Linked DNA regions of Homo sapiens. The protein of the gene in region 2 interacts with the protein of the main gene of each other region in a pairwise test. Each region holds a gene or a part of one and is shown on either strand. Other genes may lie near its edges.

Region 1 (7,505 bases), on a different chromosome or scaffold from region 2:
ATGTTAACTCCACTTTATTGAGATACAATTTTCAGACAATAAGATGCATCAATTGAAAGTGCGCAGGTCAGGCTGGGCACAGTGGCTCACGCTTGTAATCCCAGTGCTTTGGGAGGCCAAGGTGGGAGGATCAGTTGAGGTTAGGAGTTTATGCCAGCCTGGGCAACATAATGAGGCCCCATCTCTAAAAAAATTTTTTTAAATTAGCCAGGCATGGTGGCATGTGCCTGTAGTCCCAGCTACTTGGGAAGCTGAGGTGGGAAGACAACTTGAGCCCAGTAATTCAAGGCTTCAGTGAGCTATGATCATGCTACTAAACTCCAGCCTGGGCAATAGAGTGAGACCCTGTGTCTAAAAATAAAAATAAAAGTAGGCAGCTTCATGGAGTTTGAAAGCACATGAATTTGTGTAATCAACACCCAGATCAAGATACAGAATAGCATTTCAAAATGTAGAACATCAACCTTAGAAATTCTTTCTTGTTGCTTTCCAGCCAGTACATCTCTCTGACAGAGACAACCACTACTCTTATCTCTAACCATGTCAAAGATGAGTTTTGCCTGTTCTTGAAGTTAATATAAATGTAGTCATACTGTTCGTACTGTTTTGTGCCTGACTTCTTCAGCTCAATATGTTTTTGAGATTTTTCCATGGTGTCATGAGTACCGGCAGTTCATTCTTTATTGTTGTTGCATACTACTCCATTACATAAACATGTCACAGTTTGTTGTCCATTATTCTGTTTATGAGCAGTTATTTTTATTTTAGTGCTATTAAGAATATAGCTGCTATAAGCATTCTTGTGCAAATATTATTGTGTGTATAAAATATATACATTCATCTCTCTTGGACATATACCTAACCATGAAATTGCTAGGTCCTTGGGGGAGGTCCTTTGTCAGAGAGAGAGAGAGAGAGAGAGAGAGATAGTATATTACTGTATAAATAAATATGTGTTTATTTATTTTTATACACATATTTATTTATAGAGTCATGTGCCACATAATGACATTTCAGTCAACAATGATGGAACATACACATACAAAAGCTGTCCCAAAAAACTATAATGTCATATTTTTATTGTACCTTTTCTATGTTTAAATGTGTTTCCAGATAACAAATACTTACCATTGTGTTACAGTTGCCTACTGTATTCAGTACAGTAACATGCTGTGCAGGTTTACAGCCTATGAGCAATAGACTATACCATATAGCCTAAGTGTGTTATAGGCTATACCATCCAGGTTCATGAAGTCCACTGTGATGTTTACACAACAACAAAATCACTAAAGGTGAATTTCTCAGAATATATTCCCATTGTTACAAAAGATATGACGTTGTGTATGTATGTGTTCTAATGTGTGCGTTGGGGGGTGGGTGTATGAAGAGAGAGAGAGAATATTTTAACCCAGGCTGTAGCTTGCCTTTTCACTTTCTTAGCTATTTATCTGATCAACAAAAGGTTTTCATTTTGATGAAGTCTAATCTATTTATTATAGTGTCCTCCATGAGCTTAGAAGTCTTCTCATGGCAGAAGGTTATGAATATAATCTTCTGAGTTTTCTTCTAAAAACTTTAGACTTGAAATCTTCACAATTAAGTGTTTAATCCAACCTGAATTAAGTTTTATACGTAGCGTGAGGTAGAGATCAAGATGTATTCATTTTGGCTATACAAGTATCCACTTGATTCAGCGACAAGTATTGAACAGTATTGAAAAAACAGTATTGAAAAAGCTTTCCTTTTCTCATTGACTTGCTTTGGGATCTTTGTCAGAAATCAATTGACCACATATATGTGAGTCTATTTCTAAACTCTATATTCTTTCTCATTGATCTACTTTCCAACCCTTATGCCAATATCACACTGTTTTAATTGTAGTAGCATTATAGTAACTTGCATGAATTTACATTTCATTGCCACAAGCAATGAGAGTGCTATAGGCAGTGAATGTATCTGTTATCAAACTTTGATTTTTTTCAGTTTGATAGGTGGAAAACTAAAATATCTCAGTATAATTTAAATTTACATTTCTCTTTTCATGAGTGACATTGAGCATTTTTTCTTATTTTAAGTGCCTTTTGTATTTTCCTTTTGGTCACTGTCTAGAGTGTAATTGTAATATTGTTTCCCAGTTTGTCATCTTGTCTTCTGGTTTTACAGGTTGTATTTTTCACCCAAGCACAAGTTCAAACACTGTTATTTTATGGAGTCAAATCTAACAGTTTTTTACGGCTTCTTAATTTTGAGTCATCATTGGAAAAGTCTTCTGACTCCAAATTTATAAAATAATTATCCTTTTGGGCATATTTATTATTTATTTTTCATATCTCAATCTTTGATCTACTTGTAATTCGTCCCACTGTAAAGGATGAAGTATGGTTTCAACATTCCCTGCCCCCACACCAAAGGGAATACAAAATTGTCCCCAAAGTACATATAATACATATAACGGTCTACCTTTTCCCCATGGCTTTTATTTTGTATTTTATTTTATTTTATTAAAAATGAAATCGCACTGTGTTGCCCACCTGAACTTGAACTCCTGGGTTCAAGTAATTCTTCTGCCTCAGCCTCCTACAGAATGGGAGAAAATTTTTGCAATCTGTCCATCTGACAAAGGGCTAATATACAGAATCTACAAGGAACTTAAACAAATTTACAAGAAAAAACAAACAACCCCATCAAAAAAATGGGCTAAGGATATAGAAAGACACTTCTCAAAAGAAGACATTTATGTGGCCAACAAACATATGAAAAAAGCTCATCATCACTGGTCACTAGAGAAATGCAAATCAAACCACAATGAGATACCATCTCACACCAGTTAGAATGACAATCATTAAAAAGTCAGGAAACAACAGATGCTGGAGAGGATGGAGAGAAATTGGAACACTTTTACACAGTTGGTGGGAGTGTAAATTAGTTCAACCAATGCAGAAGACAGTGTGGCAATTTCTTAAGGATCAAGAACCATAAATACAGTTTGACCCAGCAATCCTATTACTTGATACATACCCAAAGGATTATAAATCATTCTACTATAAAGACACATGCACATGTATGTTTATTGCAGCACTATTCACAATAGCAAAGACATGGAACCAACCCAAATGCCCATCAATGATGGACTGGATAAAGAAAATGTGGCACATATACACCATGGAATACTATACAGCCATAATAAAGGATTAGTTCATGTCCTTTGCAGGGACATGAATAAAGCTGGAAACCATCATTCTCAGCAAACTCACACAGGAACAGAAAACCAAACACTGCATGTTCTCACTCATAAGTGGGAGTTGAACAATGAGCACACATGGACACAGGGAGGGGAACATCACACCGGGGACTGTGAGGGGGTGAGGGGCTAGGGGTGGGATAGCATTAGGAGAAATACCTAATGTAGATGACAGGTTGATGGGTACAGCAAACCACCATGGCACTTGTATACCTATGTAGCAAACCTGCACGTTCTGCACATGTATCCCAGAACTCAAAGTACAAAAAATCTCATAATTCAAGAAAAAAAAAAAAGGATGAAAAGGGGCCACTAGCTGAGGATGTGGACAGCCTGTAGAAGCTGGAAAAGGCAAGAAAATGATGTTCCCCTAGAGCCTCCATAAAGGATTAGCAGCAAGTAACTTTCTGAAGAAAATGCTGAGTAAGTATTCCTCAGAAAGAAAACACACCCCTTTCAATGAATCCTATTTAAACATCCAGTATAAACCAACACTGTGATACATTTTTATCTAATGTAATACCACAAGCAAACACCAAGCACTAAAAATGTTATAAAATGTGGACTTTGGAAAACCAAAAGAGAGCTAGTCTCTTTTCCAAGAAATTTCTTATTAGCAATCAAACCCTACCTTTTCCCCATGGCTTTTATTTTATTTCATATTTTATTTATATTTTATTTTATGTTATTACATTTTATGGAAAGCTAAAACATAAATCTAGCAATTATCTTTAAAACAAGACTTTTAAAAGACTAACATTTTAATTCATACTCACATTGTCCTGACACTGAAAATGGGGAAACCATTTGGGCAGAACAAACTAAAATATTGACTTCTGATTTCTAAGTTTACCAATAATTATTAAACATTAATAGTTTCCCTTTTCTAGAGAAGAAAGGAAAAGAAGGATGAACTCATTCCTGGTTAAGCTCAGTGCCAAGTGGAGAGGTCAACAAGAATGTAATGAACTTAGTATACTCACACCTGCTTAATAATGGATGCTGTTAGGACAGTTCCTTTTGAAGACATAATTTGAAGCTCTGGGTCCAATAGACAAGTAGTAGTTATGATGGGTAATAACTTACTAACAGCCTAAATGCACATGTTTATGAGACAAATAACTCTTCTTAAGCAAGTAAAAAGCAGACTAATAAGATGTTCCTACAGGATTTGATATAAACCTGAGAAAGGAAAACATCCCACCTGTGTGACACCACGTAGAAGAGAGGCTATATAAGCACTTCAAAGAGGAAAACACCAAGAGCCTTGGAATTCAGACTCTGTGGAGGTGGCTTGAGCTTTTCATCCTGGTGACCACAGACCTGGAACAAACTAAAGCCAGACACATACTATGGACACCAAGGGCTGTACAACAACCAATTCTCCTTCAACCCCATGTCAAAACTGCTCTAGGATTACAAATGTTAGTACCATCTCTTCTAACAACGGCTGCCATCCTGGTGGCCTTACAGTCAACAACTGTCAACCAGCTGGCCACGTTCTCAGAATTCCCTGGGACCAGGGCTGCCAACCCACTCCTCGCTTTTGTCGCAAGCCCATCTACCTAATGAACAACTTCAATGCCCGTTTTTCTCTGGATGACTGCAGCTGGTATGGTGAAGGCATCAACAGTAATGAGAAGGAGACCATGCAAATCTTGAACGAGCGCCTTGCTAACTACCTGCAAAAGGTGCGAATGCTAGAACGAGAGAATGCTGAACTGGAATCTAAAATCCAGGAAGAAAGTAACAAAGAGCTCCCTGTTCTATGTCCTGATTACCTGTCTTACTACACTACCATTGAGGAGCTCCAGCAGAAGGTAAGATTCCTAAGAACCTGTTTAATCGTGTTGTGAATTAATGGTTTCCAAGCAACAGTTATTTGCTAAACTTTAATATTTTTTGTTCAGTTGATGCTGAAAATTTTTTTGAAGAATAGAAAAATTTCTTGAGTGAAATTGTCATCTTGAGGCAGCATTCAGAGTCTGATAGTATTTCTGGTCAGGCGCAGTGATGCACACCTGTAATCCTAACACTTTGGGAGGCTGAGGCAGACAGATCACTTGAGCCCAGGAGTTCTAGACCATCCTGGGCAACATGATGAAATTCCATCCTTACACACACACACACACACACACACATACACACACAAAAAAAAATTAGATGGGCGTGGTGGCACATGCCTGTGGTCCCAGCTACTTGGGAGGCTGAGGTGGGAGGATCACTTGAGCCCAAGAGGTTGAGGCTGCCATGAGCCAAGATCCTGCCACTGCACTCCAGCCCAGACAAAAGTGAGACTATGTCTTTAAAAATCAGAAACAAAAAGAAGAGTCTCATGGTGTTTCCTTTCTCCAGAAATACACTCTACCATTATAACTAGATGACTCAGGACCAAAAGATGTTAACAGCAAGTTGTTGCCATTTTTTAAATAAAAATAGGGAAACAGAGATCAGAGAAAATAAATTTTGCTTTAATGAGTTTCTAAGCAATTTAGTTTTTATCCATTTTTCAACCATCACCACCTTTTTCTCCTTTTATGCTTATGTTATCATCTCCACATTGCTTGGTTTGTTTCTACACCAAACCTAAGTTTGTTATGCACAGACGTATTCTGCTACTACATATCTGGATTTATTCAGTTTTATTCATTCAACAAATGTTTACTGAGCAGCAACAACATTGGGCCAAACATTGTTCTAGATTCTGGGAAAATATTGGTGACCTTTAAAAAGTCCCTGCCCTCATGGAGTTGACATTCTAGTGGATCATGGTATTTATATAAATTTAGGATGGATTTTATTTTATTTTTTATTTATTTATTTATGTATTTATTGAGATGGAGTCTCACTCTGTCACCAGGCTGGAGTGCAATGGCGCGATCTCTGCTCACTGCAACCTCCAGCTCCCAGGTTCAAGCGATTCTCCCTCCTCTGCCTCTCTAGTAGCTGGGTCTACAGGCACGCACCACCACACCCAGATAATTTTTGTATTTTTTTTTTTTTTTGAGACGGAGTCTCGCTCTGTCTCCCAGGCTGCAGTGCAGTGGCGCGATCTCGGCTCACTGCTAGCTCCGCTTCCTGGGTTCATGCCATTCTCCTGCCTCAGCCTCCCAAGTAGCTGGGACTACAGGCGCCCGCCACCACGCCCAGCTAATTTTTTTTTTTTTTATATTTTTAGTAGAGACGGGGTTTCACCGTGTTAGCCAGGATGGTCTTGATCTCCTGACCTCGTGATCTACCCGCCTCGGCCTCCCAAAGTGCTGGGATTACAGGCGTGAGCCACTGCGCCCGGCCAATTTTTGTATTTTTTAGTAGAGACAGGGTTTCACCATGTTGGCCAGGATGGTCTTGATCTCTTGACCTCGTGATCCGCCCGCCTCAGCCTCCCAAGTGCTGATATTACATGGGTGAGCCACTGCTCTCAGCCTGGATTTTTTAACAACAACAACAAAAAAAATACTTAAAAGTTTCTAGTTAAGTACTTTTTGCTGATCTTTTAGGAAAATAACAGGAAATCTGACTTTCTGAAGTTTTCCAAGCTTTGTGAGCATAGCTATGAAGATTAATAAAAAGTCTACTTAGCCTTCCCCTGTTACTTGACACACACACAAACCCCTTGGTTCTTAAAGAAGGAAATCTTGGTGTTTGCTTCATTTGTGTGTACAATCTCTTAATTCTAGATCTTGTGTACCAAGGCCGAGAATTCCAGACTGGTCTCGCAAATTGACAACACCAAACTGACTGCAGATGACTTGAGAGCCAAGTAAGCCCACCCAACACCGTCATCAATGACAGAGCTCACCCTGAGTCTGACCGAGATGCCCTCAACAAAATTGTCCCCATGTCTACTAACCCTCTTGCCCCAGATGATGTTGGCACAAGCCCAGAAAAGACTTTCAAATTCAATGAATGATTAAGATTAATAACTGCTCACATGTATACAGTACCTATAGTTTCTAACTTGTGAACCCATTTGATTACCTACACAATAGTTCAGTAAAATAGATAGGACTAATATATTGTTACTCTCTTTAAGGTGAGAAATCTGTGGCTTAGTGAGGCTAAGTTACTCACCCAAAGGTAAGCATAACTAGCACAAGTCAAAACCGAAACTTGGACACATGTTTTCTGAGCCCTAATCCAGTGCTTTCTTCACTTACATTGCATTGCCACTAGGGGCAGAGGAAGGACAATAAATTCCCATATCTCAAAGAACAGCAATGTAGATCCCCCTAGCAAACTAATTTGGGAATAATAATTAAGT
Region 2 (3,097 bases):
CCAAGATCGCCAGGGAGGCCACTCATTTTGTGCCGTCCACCCCAAGTCTCTCTTCCTCCAAAACTCCCACTTCTCATCCTCACTCTATGGTCTGTGTGACCTCAAGTTCAGGATTTGCCCTCTCCGAGCTTCCTGCCCCCTTGGGAACTGGGCAGGGCTTGGATGGAACACTCCTGGTTGGGGAGAGTCTATGCACCCCATCGGCCTTTCCCCTGCAGGCTCCCTTTCTGGTGCAGGGGAAAGACCCCATTCCTACTCCCAGCTCTATTCCAGCTCACTCATGGCTGGATCTCAGTTTCCTCCTCGATGAGGCAGGCCTGCTAGCCTTCCAGGAGAGTTATGAGAACCCACCACGGGGACATGTCTCCAGCCAGGCCAGCCGCTATCATCATGCCCCACCACTAGACCTCGGGGTGAACAATTACTGTTTTGATGGCCCCACCCCAAGACTTCTCTCACCCTTTCTCTTGTGAACACAGAAGAGTCTGAAGGCCCAGCCCTTGAGAAACAAGCATTTGTGTTTATTAACCAAGGAGAGGGAAGTCAAAGCAATGCAGACTCCTAACCAGTCCCTCCTATAGTCTGCCCACCTAGGCCAGCTGCCAAGGACTAGGAAGAGCAGTGGATAGGCCCCTCCCCACTGCCCCGACCCCAGGGTGAGTTCTGCTGGGTAAGGAAGAGGAAGTCAGCAAAGGACAGAGGCCAAGGAAGGAAGGAGGAAACAGAGCCGCTGGGGAGACAGGATTGAGGAGATCCCTTGGCCCCTCACTCACAGTGGGGAGGGCAAAGCACCGCAAATGCAGCCCCACAAGAGGAACTAAGCAGGAGTACACTCATGTCAAAAACCTTGTATTGGGGGAGGGGAGGAGGGGGTTCTCAGGTGTCCAAAGCCAAGAACAAAACCCTTGGAGAGTCAGTCCTTGCCCAACAATGCTGGTCCAGCCTCTAAGCCTTTGCCTCCATACCAAGTTCACAACAGGGTGGAGCCTCTGACACGGCCGTCTAGAGAATGGATGCAAGAGAGGTCCAGGGACCACTTGCCTCTGTAAGATCCGTCCTGTGGCGAATTCCAGGCCCAGTGGCGCCTAGCCTTCAGCTGCTGGGCTCTCCCGAGCCTGCCTTAGCCCATACAACCACTTGATCACGCGGGCATTGCGCTCCACCACCGACACGCCATAGGGAACGCGCTCCCGGGCCCGCTCCTCAACAGTCACCGAGCTGCGGCGGGAGCAGCCCCCTTCAGAGCTGCCCGGCCCAGCACTGGGCCCTGCCAGGGACACGATATCCGAGCTGGCCCGTGCCAGGTGGGCCACACCCAACCCTCTCGCCTCCTCCGGGTCCAGGCCGCAGAAGTTAAAAAAGCGCTCGAGATCAGCGGCTGCCCTAGAAAAGCGCTCGCTCAAGTCCGACTTGGAGCGTTGCAAACCCGGCGGCCGGGCTGGGCTGGAGGCGGCGGCAGGGCCGGGTGATGGGCAGGGCCGGGCAGGCGAGGCGGGCAGGGGGCGGACGTCCACCCGGCGGACCGCAGAGGTACTGGGCGGCGGTCGCGGAGGGGTGGCTGGGGGAGGACGGCCGGCTCCCTCGGCCCGTCCAGGAGTGCGGCTGGCCTCGGCAGGGGACACGGGGCTGTCACACAAGTCGATGAGGCTGCTGAGGATGTCCAGGTCCAGCTGGGGCCGTCGGCAGGGGCCAGGCAGGGCTCGGCGGCTGGGCGTGAGCACTGTGCGGCGAGTCTCAGGGCTAAAGAGCGGCTGTTTGGACAGCAGGGGCTGCACAGGCTCCTGGCGGGTGTTGGCCACGTGCAGGCTCTTGACGTACTTGGCCTTGTCGGCCTCCAGGCGCTCCACAGCGCTCGGTTTCCGGGCTCCACCATCTGCCGGCCCCCGTAGCAGGTAGCCAGGGACCCTGGTCCGCAGGCGGCAAGGTAGGGCGGGGGCGGACGGGGCTCCGGGGCTCAGCGTGTGCACAGGCATGGCTGCTGCATATCCCGAGGGCTTTAGTCTGCGGAGACCGGAGAGATGAGGAGCCAGAGATCCGGGCAGAAAGTAGGCAGCTGGACACCGGCCACTGCTGCAGGGAAGGAGAGAGAAAAAAAAAAAAAAGCCGAGCGCGCTCAGACAAAGAGGCTCAGCCGCGGCTGAGAGGATAAGACGCCCTCCCTATTATAAGGTAGAGACCACGCCCCTCCACAAGGAGCCAATCAGCAGGCACAAGGCAGCAGCTGCGGGGCCTCAGGCCCCACCCACACCCCCTCCCTCCTGCCCCGGGAGAACCAGGCCCAGCTGAGACCAAGAGAGGAAAAAAGGTGCTAGAGAAAAAAGACCTGGGCGACCTGGGCAACCTGAGCAGAAAAGACAGGGCAAGGCACGCGCTAAAGGGAGCAAGGGAGGCTCCAGGCTCTGTGCTACGCACCAGTCAACTCAACCTCAGGTCCTCTCAACAGCCCCGTTTTTTGGATGGAGAAACTGAAGCCCAGAGAGGCAAACAACTTGCTTAAGTTAACCCAGCGAGTAGGTGGCTCTGCCCCTGACCACCAAAAAGGAAGGTGCTGGCACCGGGGCGTAGGGTTAAATGACCAAGAAAAAGGGCTCCAGCCCCACACCCCACCTGGACTCCCCACAGGGAGCCTGGTACCACCTCTACCCCTCACCCATCCAGGCAGGAAGCTGCCCTGTGCCATCCACCCGCCTAGACATGCCAGGCCCCAGGCAAAGGGCAGAGCTTATAGGGAAGGAGCAAAGAAAATCTCCACCCGCGCCCCAGTGGAGTCCAGACATCCGTCAGCTTCCTGCATGGAACTGGATGGCCCACGGTGATCCACAAATGCCTGTCACGTGGAAACATCAGCCCTGAGCTATGCTGTGCTGAGAGAAGCTGGAAATGTCCAAAATCACACAGCCCTGCATGGAGGCATCCGGCAGACCCTCGATCTGCCTGCAGCCATGGAATGGGTACTCACCTGGGAGGAGGGCATACACCTGGATGCACAAGTGTCTACGTGGTCACCCAAGTGTCAGGACCTGATGCCCCAGACATCAAGCCAACCCTGACCCTGTTTCCAAGGAAGGGCCAAGCCCACAGAGTCACCCCACAAGGC

What was found. The genes of interacting proteins can lie anywhere in the genome.
Region 1: the proteins of FAM110A (region 2) and KRT39 interact in binary tests that used the Homo sapiens proteins (3 or more experiments, as listed by UniProt).

Annotation. Positions count from the first base shown.
Region 1 is NC_000017.11:40,963,945-40,971,449, reverse strand, and holds the start of KRT39 (keratin, type I cytoskeletal 39), read left to right. Parts: upstream 1-4,501; 5' UTR 4,502-4,593; coding exon 4,594-5,061; intron 5,062-6,921; coding exon 6,922-7,004; intron 7,005-7,505. UniProt on the Homo sapiens protein: May play a role in late hair differentiation.
Region 2 is NC_000020.11:843,681-846,777, reverse strand, and holds the end of FAM110A (protein FAM110A), read right to left. Parts: intron 2,136-3,097; exon of another isoform or gene 2,071-2,135; 5' UTR 1,974-2,070; coding exon 1,086-1,973; 3' UTR 501-1,085; downstream 1-500.